2 separate regions of the Homo sapiens genome follow, and region 1 is reported to be linked to region 2. The links are microRNA targets in miRTarBase. Many come from high-throughput screens and were not tested one by one. Region 2 holds a microRNA gene; the other region holds the end of a gene's coding sequence.
What was found. The annotated mature microRNA hsa-miR-6869-5p reads GUGAGUAGUGGCGCGCGGCGGC and lies in region 2 at 1,222-1,243, opposite strand. An mRNA with a match to its seed (bases 2 to 7 or 8) in the 3' UTR can be bound and repressed. Matches are read on the target gene's strand: a 7mer-m8 pairs with bases 2 to 8, a 7mer-A1 pairs with bases 2 to 7 and ends in A, and an 8mer does both.

Region 1: the mRNA of AP1S3 is a reported target of hsa-miR-6869-5p. Seed matches in the 3' UTR shown: 7mer-m8 at 2,225-2,231 and 7mer-m8 at 3,684-3,690.

What each region holds. Positions count from the first base shown.
Region 1 is chr2:223,754,953-223,759,344 of GRCh38, reverse strand. AP1S3 (adaptor related protein complex 1 subunit sigma 3) reads left to right here. Exons shown (of 5, transcript NM_001039569.2): 5 at 595-4,019. The coding sequence ends at 630. Among named protein-coding and RNA genes, the nearest start is that of AP1S3, 80 kb to the left of the region's middle.
Region 2 is chr20:1,391,719-1,396,110 of GRCh38, forward strand. MIR6869 (microRNA 6869) reads right to left here and starts at 1,243; the gene lies at 1,182-1,243. It overlaps FKBP1A (FKBP prolyl isomerase 1A), which reads right to left and starts at 1,336. Exons shown (of 5, transcript NM_000801.5): 1 at 1,244-1,336; 2 at 1,116-1,163. The coding sequence starts at 1,280. It overlaps FKBP1A-SDCBP2 (FKBP1A-SDCBP2 readthrough (NMD candidate)), which reads right to left and starts at 1,454. Exons shown (of 10, transcript NR_037661.1): 1 at 1,244-1,454; 2 at 1,116-1,163. RefSeq lists an enhancer at 728-1,228 and silencers at 963-1,032, 1,043-1,142, 1,343-1,392.

The DNA.
Region 1 (4,392 bases), not on the chromosome of region 2:
GATATCTTGGCAACTTTGCTTTAGCATTTCAATCTCTCTCTCTCTCTCTTTTTTTTTTTTGTTTTTGAGACGGAGTCTCACTCTGTCACCCAGGCTGGAGTGCAGTGGTGCAATCTTGGCTCACTTCAACCTCCGCCTCCCGGTTCAAGCAATTCTCCTGCCTCAGCTTCCCGAGTAGCTGGGAATACAGGTGCATGCCACCACACTCGGGTAATTTTTGTATTTTTCATCGAGATGGGGTTTTGTCATGTTGGCCAGGCTGGCCTCAGGTGATCTGCCCACCTCAGCCTCCCAAAGTGCTGGTATTACAGGCGTGAGCACCACACTGGCCAAGCATTTCTCTTATCAGACATTCACTTTATGATCAAGCTTAACTTTTTCTCAGTTGAAAGTTACTTAATTCCAGCCCCATATGGATGTGTATACAAATTATACTCAAACTTTGATTAGAATGCAAAGATTTTATATCCATGTATCCTTTTGACAACTTGTTTTCAACAATGGCAAATAAATAAAAGAATGCAGAAGATTTCACAGTCTGCGGAAGGCTGTGACTTAAAGGGAAAATTGTTCTAATTTATTGTTCGCTTTCAGACAATGGAAGAATACATGAACAAGCCTACATTTTAACTGGAAATCTACTTGAAGACTCCAGCACTACATGTTATGAAGCTGTAAATAAGCAACGCCTCCCATCCGGTTTTTTGATGGAGCCTCAGGCACCATGCCAAAAATAATTTAAAGGGATTCTTTGTTAACTAACAAAGTTAAAGTTGTTTAACATATTTATAATTACTATGTGTCTGTATTATTAAAAAAAATTATGTGTCTGTGTTATACTGTATAGGTACTTGTAGCTCTAAATGTTTAAAGTAACTACCACCTAACCCAACAGACAATATTTGTAATGTATTAACTCCATGTTATGTTTTTAAGCTGGTTTAGATACATTAGCTGCAATTTTTTTTGCATTTGACACAATATTGTAATAATCCATGATTTTGAATGTAAAGTATATATGATGTCATTAATACTTTTTCTAAATGTTTAGTTTTCTAAATTGTATAATAATTCAAAATTATGTTAATAGTGCAGAGTTTATATGTAATGCTAGACATTTTTCATACACTTAATAGTACTGTAACTGCAATTCACATACAAAATGTCTGATTTTAATGTGCTGAATTCATTTATTTTTTTTAGAATTGGGATTATGAAAATAACCAAAGAGTATAGAACTTAATAAGTGTTTTTGATGCCTTAGAAGCTGCTATCTTGACTGAGGTTTTAATTTATCTTTTAATTGAATATAAGGGACATTCCAATAAGGTTTTCTATGAACTATATATTTATTAAGGTTTATAGAGACCTAGAGATACAGCATCTATGACTTCCTTTATTATTCTAAAATAGTATGATAAGAATTAATAGCAATAATAATTATTGCTACTATTTTTTAAAATTCACGTTCCAAGCACTCTTAGATGCTGGAAATTTCATTTCAAATATGTTTTAATGTATCTCTAATGCATTTGAAGACTTATTACATGGCTTACTTAGAGCATTTAAGATTATCACAGCCTATATGGTAGATTCCTTTCCTTCTTTTTTCTTTTCTTACCCTTTCCTCCCCAAAGAAAAGATTTGCTGCTGACCATTATTACTGTAAGTATATCACATTTGTGCTTCCTGGAATGAAAATTCTGTATAACCAGGTCCTAACAGTGATCAGACATATTACAGGGAAATAGCTTGTAGGCCGGGAGTGGTGGCTTACACCTGTAATCCCAGCACTTTGGGAGGCCGAGGCAGGTGGATCACTTGAGGTCAGGAGTTCGAGAGCAGCCTGGCCAATATGATGAAACCCCATCTCTACTAAAAATACAAAAATTAGGCCGGGTACAGTGGCTCATGCCTATAATTCCAGCACTTTGGGAGGCAGAGGTGGGCGGATCACAAGGTCAAGAGATCAAGACCATCCTCGCCAACAAGGTGAAACCCCACCTCTATTAAAAATACAAAAATTAGCCGGGAGTGGTGGTGCGTGCCTGTAGTCCCAGCTACTTGGGAGGCTGAGGCAGGAGAATCGCTTGAACCTGGGAGGCAGAAGTTGCAGTGAGCTGAGATTGTGCCACTGCACTCCAGCCTGGGCGACAGAGCGAGACTTCGTCTCAAACAAACAAAAAAATTAGCCGGGCATGGTGGCAGGTGCCTGTAATCCCAGCTACTCAGGGGGCTGAGGCAGGGGAATGGCTTGAACCCAGGAGGCAGAGGTTGCAGTGAGCCAAGGTCATACCAGTGCACTCCAGGCGGGTGACAGAGCAAGACTGCGTCTCAAGAAAAAAAAAAAAAAAAAGAAAAAGTAAAAGCTTGTAGTATTCTGTCTTGCTGCCTGCTATTTGATGTTTTACCTGTGCATTTTCAATGTTAGCTTTGAGGTCTGGTATCATTCATATTAGAGTGGTTTGGGACCTCCAGTGATTTCCTAGAAGAGTGTGTTTCCTGTTGGATTCTTTAGGAGATCCCATCTGGTAGATTTTTAGAGAACTCGATGGAAAAATGTTCTCTTTAGTTCATCTCAGCAGACATATTTAGGGAAAACAGCAAAGCAAGCAGGAGAACAAAGGGAAAAATTCACCAATTCCTCAATATAACCATTGTTCAAAGGAAATAACTCAGATTAGCATATAAAATAATCATTAGGCTTTTACTATCCAATATTTCTTCAGGTTACCATGTAATTACAATTATGGCATCAGCTTGAAGTTTATCATGTATGATTGACCACTGTGTTTACTTTAGCTAACCTTCAGTTTTGTGGTTTAACTTTTTAATGTGTTAGAATTTTTTCTTTCTTTTTTTCTTTCTTTCTTTCTTTTCTTTCTTTCTTTCTTTTCCTTCCTTTCTTCCTTCCTTCTTCTCTCTCTCTCCTTCCCTCCCTTCCTTCCTTCCCTTCCTCCCTCCCTCCTTTCTTTCTTTCTTTTTCTCTTTTCTTTTCTTTTCTTTCTTTTCTTTCCTCGCTTCTTGTCACCCAGGCCAGAGTGCAATGGTGTGATCTCAGGTCACTGCAGCCTCCGTCTCCTGGGTTCAAACGATTCTCCTGCCTCAGCCTCCCGAGTAGCTGGGATTATAGGCATGCGCCACCACGCCTGGCTAATTTTGTATTTTTGGTAGAGTTGGGATTTCTCCATGTTGGTCAGGCTGGTCTTGAACGCCGACCTCAGGTGATCCGCCCGCCTTGGCCTTCCAAAGTGCTGGAATTACAGGCATGAGCCGCTGCACCCGGCCAAATTCTTTATTTTTCAATACAATTTTGTAAAGATGGACCTCATGTAAATCCATCATAGTTTTTCCGGTTCTTTTGAAATTTGTCACCATATTTGGATAAAGGTATCTCTTGAACCTCATTCAAATATACTACACATGTTCTGGATAATTCCATATTAGACACTTTAGTTATGGACAGGGCTTCTCAGACTTCAATCAGTGTCACACATAGAAAGTAAATATATCTCTTCTGGGCAAGGTGGCTCACGCCTGTAATCCCAGCACTTTGGGAGGTCAAGGCGGCAGATCACCTGAGGTCAGGAGTTCGAGACCAGCCTGGCCAACATGGTGAAACCCTGTCTCTACTAAAAATTCAAAAATTAGCCAAGTGTGGTGGCACATGCTTGTAGTGCCAGCTACTCAGGAGGCTGAGGCAGGAGAATCGCTTGAACCCGGGAGGCAGAGGTTGCAGTGAGCTGAGATCACGCCACTGTACTCCAGCCCGGGTGACAGAGTGAGACCCTGTCTCAAAAAAAAAAAAAAAAAAATGAAAGTAAGTAAACATATCTATATGGCACAGTGGGGTAAATTTGAGGGATTTTAGGGACATCTTCCATGGGCCTAGGCTAAAATAGTCATTGTGTTTTCTTTATATTATATAATTACTATAAAACTACCAAGAGAAAGACAGTAAATGTTAAATTTCTATAAAACTTCCAAAATAAAATGTTTTAACATGTTTTAATGAGGAACTTGGTGTGTTTTCATGAATACACTTTTTTTTAAGTCAGATTTTATGTTTGAAATTGCTACTCATAATTCCTGGTGATGTCTCTTTAATATGACCTCTTTATTTTCTTGGTACCTACCAACAAGAAGCAACTTCAAAAGTAAGTGGTAGCAAATGGGAGAAGAGTATTTATTGCTTTTGCTCCTACTGACTTTTCTCATCATTCACCTACATTTTGGTAATCTGATCTCTTTACACGTAATTAATGATGTGATCATTTTTTAAATCTAGTGACAGCTCCTTTTCTTTCATTAACAAATGTAAAGTTGACAATTTTTGTGATAAAGCAAATGGATTTTTGATTCAAACTTTTTTTTCCATATCAAACCTCCTAA
Region 2 (4,392 bases):
AGCCTACTACCCAGGAGGAGGAAGAGGAGGAGAGGGAGTGGGAAAAAAAGAGGGAGGAGGAGGGGGAACAGAGGAAAGGGTGGGAAGGTTGAGAAAGGGGAAGGAGGAGGGGGAGGGAAGGTTATTCGTATCAACAACTGTGGCTACACCAATCACTGCCACCCTTGTGGGACCCACAGCCACTGAGTCTCCGCCAACTCAGCTCTCCCCCTCCCCCGCCCCCATACAAACCAGGACAAGCTTGTAAGGAGAAGGAGTAAGACAGCCCCAAGGCACACGACTCTGATGTCTGAATTCTGGCTGGGGAGGGGGAGGTGTCTAAAATTTCCTTTGGCTTGTATTATCACTATGTATTAGCCTCCAGATGCTTATCTTTAAAATGAGGACGAGAAAAGTCTCTACTTCTAGAAGAGCTGGGGGACTAAATTACACGTGCAGCTTTCGGTCAGCCTGAGCCAGCGCTGTCACTGAGCCTTGGATTTGTAAGTGGCTCAAAAGTAAAAAGACGGAAGAAGGCCGTGCAGCTCTACTTCCCCCAAGGCCAGGAAGGGCCAAAGCAATGACTTAGGAAGTGGGATGTTTCCCCACCCTAGGCAAAGGGGCGAATTCCGAGTTCCCCGGAGGAAGCAGCAGCTCTGCAGACTCGGAATTACCTCGTCCTCATCTCCAGTGAAGGGAGGGATGGAAGTGGGGGCAGGGGCACAGAAATGGTACAAATCCTTCCTAATGGTCCCTGGCCAGAGCTCTGCCCATTCCTGAAAGTGTGACCTTGGGAAAGTGAGACCTTGGGAAAGTGACTTCGCCTCGCCAAGCCTCAGTTTCCTCATCTGTGCAGCGGGCATAAGGGCAGCATCTAAGGTGCAGAAATGCTTCTGACGGGTCAGATAACACCTAGCCCGCAGCCGACGCTCACAGCCGCCGATTCAGACCCGCCCGGGTTCCGCAAGCCCCAGGCTGCCCCTGAGCCACCGCCCAGGCCTCAGCCTCGGGCCATGCGGACCTCGCCGCCGCCACGCCCCGGACCCCAGGCCCCGGGCCCCCAGGCCTCGACGGCCAGCCGCACCCGGGCTGCGGACTGCGGCCCGGGCCCCCTCCCCGCTGGGCCCCCGACTCACCGGTGTAGTGCACCACGCAGGTCTGGCCGCGCTTGGGGAAGGTGCGCCCTGAGGAGACAGAGACGGGCATGCTGAGCCGATGCGCGCGGCGGCAGAGGTACTCCGAGCCGCCGCGCGCCACTACTCACCGTCTCCTGGGGAGATGGTTTCCACCTGCACTCCCATGGCGGCGGCGGACGCTGAGCGGGCGGGCGGCGCGACGGGCGGCGTGGACCAACAGCGACCTGGCGGCGGTTCCACGGCTCTGCCTAGTACCTCGGCGCGTCGCCTGCGCACGCGCACGCCCCCTCACGCCCAGCCCTGCGTGCGCGCCCCACACGGCGCGCGACGTCCCGGAAACCCAGGCCTCCGGAAGAGGGACCGGAAGCCCAGAAGCCCCGAGACCTCCGGAAGCCCGGAGGCCTCCGGATACAGCTGTGTTTGCCGGGTGACTTGCTTCGTTCTCCTGCCCTTCCTCTGTGCTTCCAGCCGGTTAAGCATCTCCCTGCCCAAAGAATGGGAGTAATAATAGGGGGTCCGCCAGTCACTGACTGGGTGACTGTCATCAGGTTTCCACTTAGAAGCACACAGTTACTCATCCTGGGAAGAGCATGGTTCTGAGAAGACAGCGCACAGGTGGTGGTAGTATGTTAGTATTTTATAAGTGGCTCAAGGTTGTAAGTTCTGCTTTTCTTCACTGGAGGAGGAGTTGTCCAAATTCATTCACTCACCCATAGCTTACATGCATACATTCTTATTGAGCATGTGAAAGTTGATAATACGAATTGGGTCACTCTTCTTATGCCCAACGGAATCAGAATCCAGGGGCCAGGGGAAAAGCACTGGAGGCACGCAGCGCCTGCTCCAAGAACCAATATTTCCACTAACTGCTGCGGAAATGGCCTGCTGTCCCCCTGAGACCAGATTCAGCTAGTAACTGCTGAAACAACCCGCCATAACCTAATACTAGTTTTACTTACCACTGTCAGTCACCAATCAGAGCTTGCCAGCTCCCTGAAACTTTACTAGTGCCAATGCATTTCCCTTTCTAATAAAACGCCCAGCCTTCTCTTTGTTTTTCGGACATACCAAAGACCACCAGATCTGTGTGTATGCTCCGAGTTGCGATTCTCGCTTCCCCAAATAAAACATTACATTTAGAGATTCATCTCCATATTTTATTTTGACTTTGACAAGCACCTTCTGTATGTCATGTACTGTGCTAGGTGCTGAGGATACAGCGGTGAAGGAGTCAGACTTAGTCCCTGACCTCACAGAATCTACGTATGATGTGGGAGAGATAATCAAATAACCTGTTTAAGTAAAAAAAGATACGGAATAAATGTAAAGTTTCAAATCTGTAATATTATGAGACAGTAATACATGCTGTGAGGGGCGTGTTAATATAACAGAGATGCCTCACTTAGTCTGGAATGTGGTCAGATATTTCCCTGAGTTAGCCAGGTTTAGCCAGGTTTAGCCAAGGTTAGAAGGCCAATTGTGTGTATGTGTTGGGGTAAGGGGAGGCAGAAGGAGCAGTACCTGCAGAGGCACTGTAACGCAAGAGAACACTGTGACATGGTCTAGGACATAAGGAGGCACATGTGACTAATCTTTCTCTGATCTGTGTGTGTGTGTGCTTCTGCATTAGTCGATTCTCACACTGCTATAAAGAATACCTGAGGCTGGGCACGGTGGCTCATGCCTGTAATCCCAGCACTTTGGGAAGCTGAGGCGGGCAGATCACTTGAGGCCAGGCGTTCAAGACCAGCCTGGCCAACATGGTGAAACCCAGTTTCTACTAAAAATACAAAAAAATTAGCCAGGCATGGTGGCACAGGCTTGTAATCCCAGCCACTTGAGAGGCTGAGGCATAAGAATTGCTTAAACCAGGAGGCGGAGGTTGTAGTGAGCCAAGATTGCACCTCTGCATTCCAGCCTGGGTGACAGAGTGAGAACCAGTCTCAAAAAAAAAAAAAAAAAAAAAAAATTCCTGAGACTGGGTAATTTATGGAGGAAAGAGGTTTAATTGACTCACAGTTCTGCATGGCTGGGAATCCTCAGGAAACTTACAATCATGGCAGAAGGGGAAGCAGGCATATCTTACACAGCAGCAGGCATGAGAGAGAGTATGTGAAGAGGAACTGTCAAACACCTATAAAACCATCATTTCTCATGAGAATGCACTCACTACCATGAGAACAGCATGGGGGAAACCACCCCCACCATCCAATCACCTCCCACCGGGTCCCTCCCTTGACCTCAGGATTATAGGGATTACAATTCAAGATAAGATTTGGGTGGGGACACAGAACTAAACCATACCAGCTCCTGTAGTGTTTTAAACATGACCTCACAGTTTTTTGACACCCCAACCCTCATCTATGTCCCCTTTCCTAAAATCTCAGTGAGCTCGTGACTGCTTTGGAAATTTTAATGTAGTAAGAATACAGGCTGTAACAGAACCAAATTAACTGTGGCTGAAAAGAGGCTGAAGTTGCTGTCTCTCTCATGTAACAGTTCAGAGGCAGGTGGTTCAGTGCAGGTAGGACTTCACAGGCTGCCCAGGGACTCATCCTTCTTCTACTTGTGGCTCCCCATCCTTAGAATCCTACCCTCATATGCATGGTCCAAGTTGGCTCTCCAACATATTTTCATCTCAGCTAGTGGGAAGGGGGAAAGGAGGAATGGGGGGTACATTCCCTTTTCCTTTAAGGGTACGACTTAGAATTGCACACATCTCTTCCCGTTATACTTCACATTGACTATAACTTAGTTATATGGTCAAATTTAGCTGCATGGGAGGCTAGGGAATAAAGTCTTCATTCTGGGTGTACACACACCCAACTAAAATCAGAGGTTCTGTGCTCATAGAATGGAAGAATGGAGATCGAAAGATGAAATTAAAAAGAGGGCCCCAGCAGTCGCCAGGACACTGCTTCACACCACCTAGAGAAAATCAGACTGCAGCGAGAATAAATGATGGAGAATGAGAGCAACCAGGGGCGAGAGAGTTCCTGGATTCCGTTTTCCCTGAAGCCTAGCAGAATAAGGCTTGCCTCACATTCATCCTGTGGTCTCTCTCATGGCTCTGAATTGGGTATCGGTTCAAAACATAGACCTGCCTTTGAGACAGTGGCCATCTCAATCCATGGATATAAGCTTTGTTTATATAGATGGGGGTTCCCCAAGAACCTCACATTTGCACCACTTCTTCCTCAGTGCTTTGGGAAAACACAGGAAAGCATGTAGCTATCAGTTCTGCCACCAGACCTAAGATGAATTGGACCTGGGGACA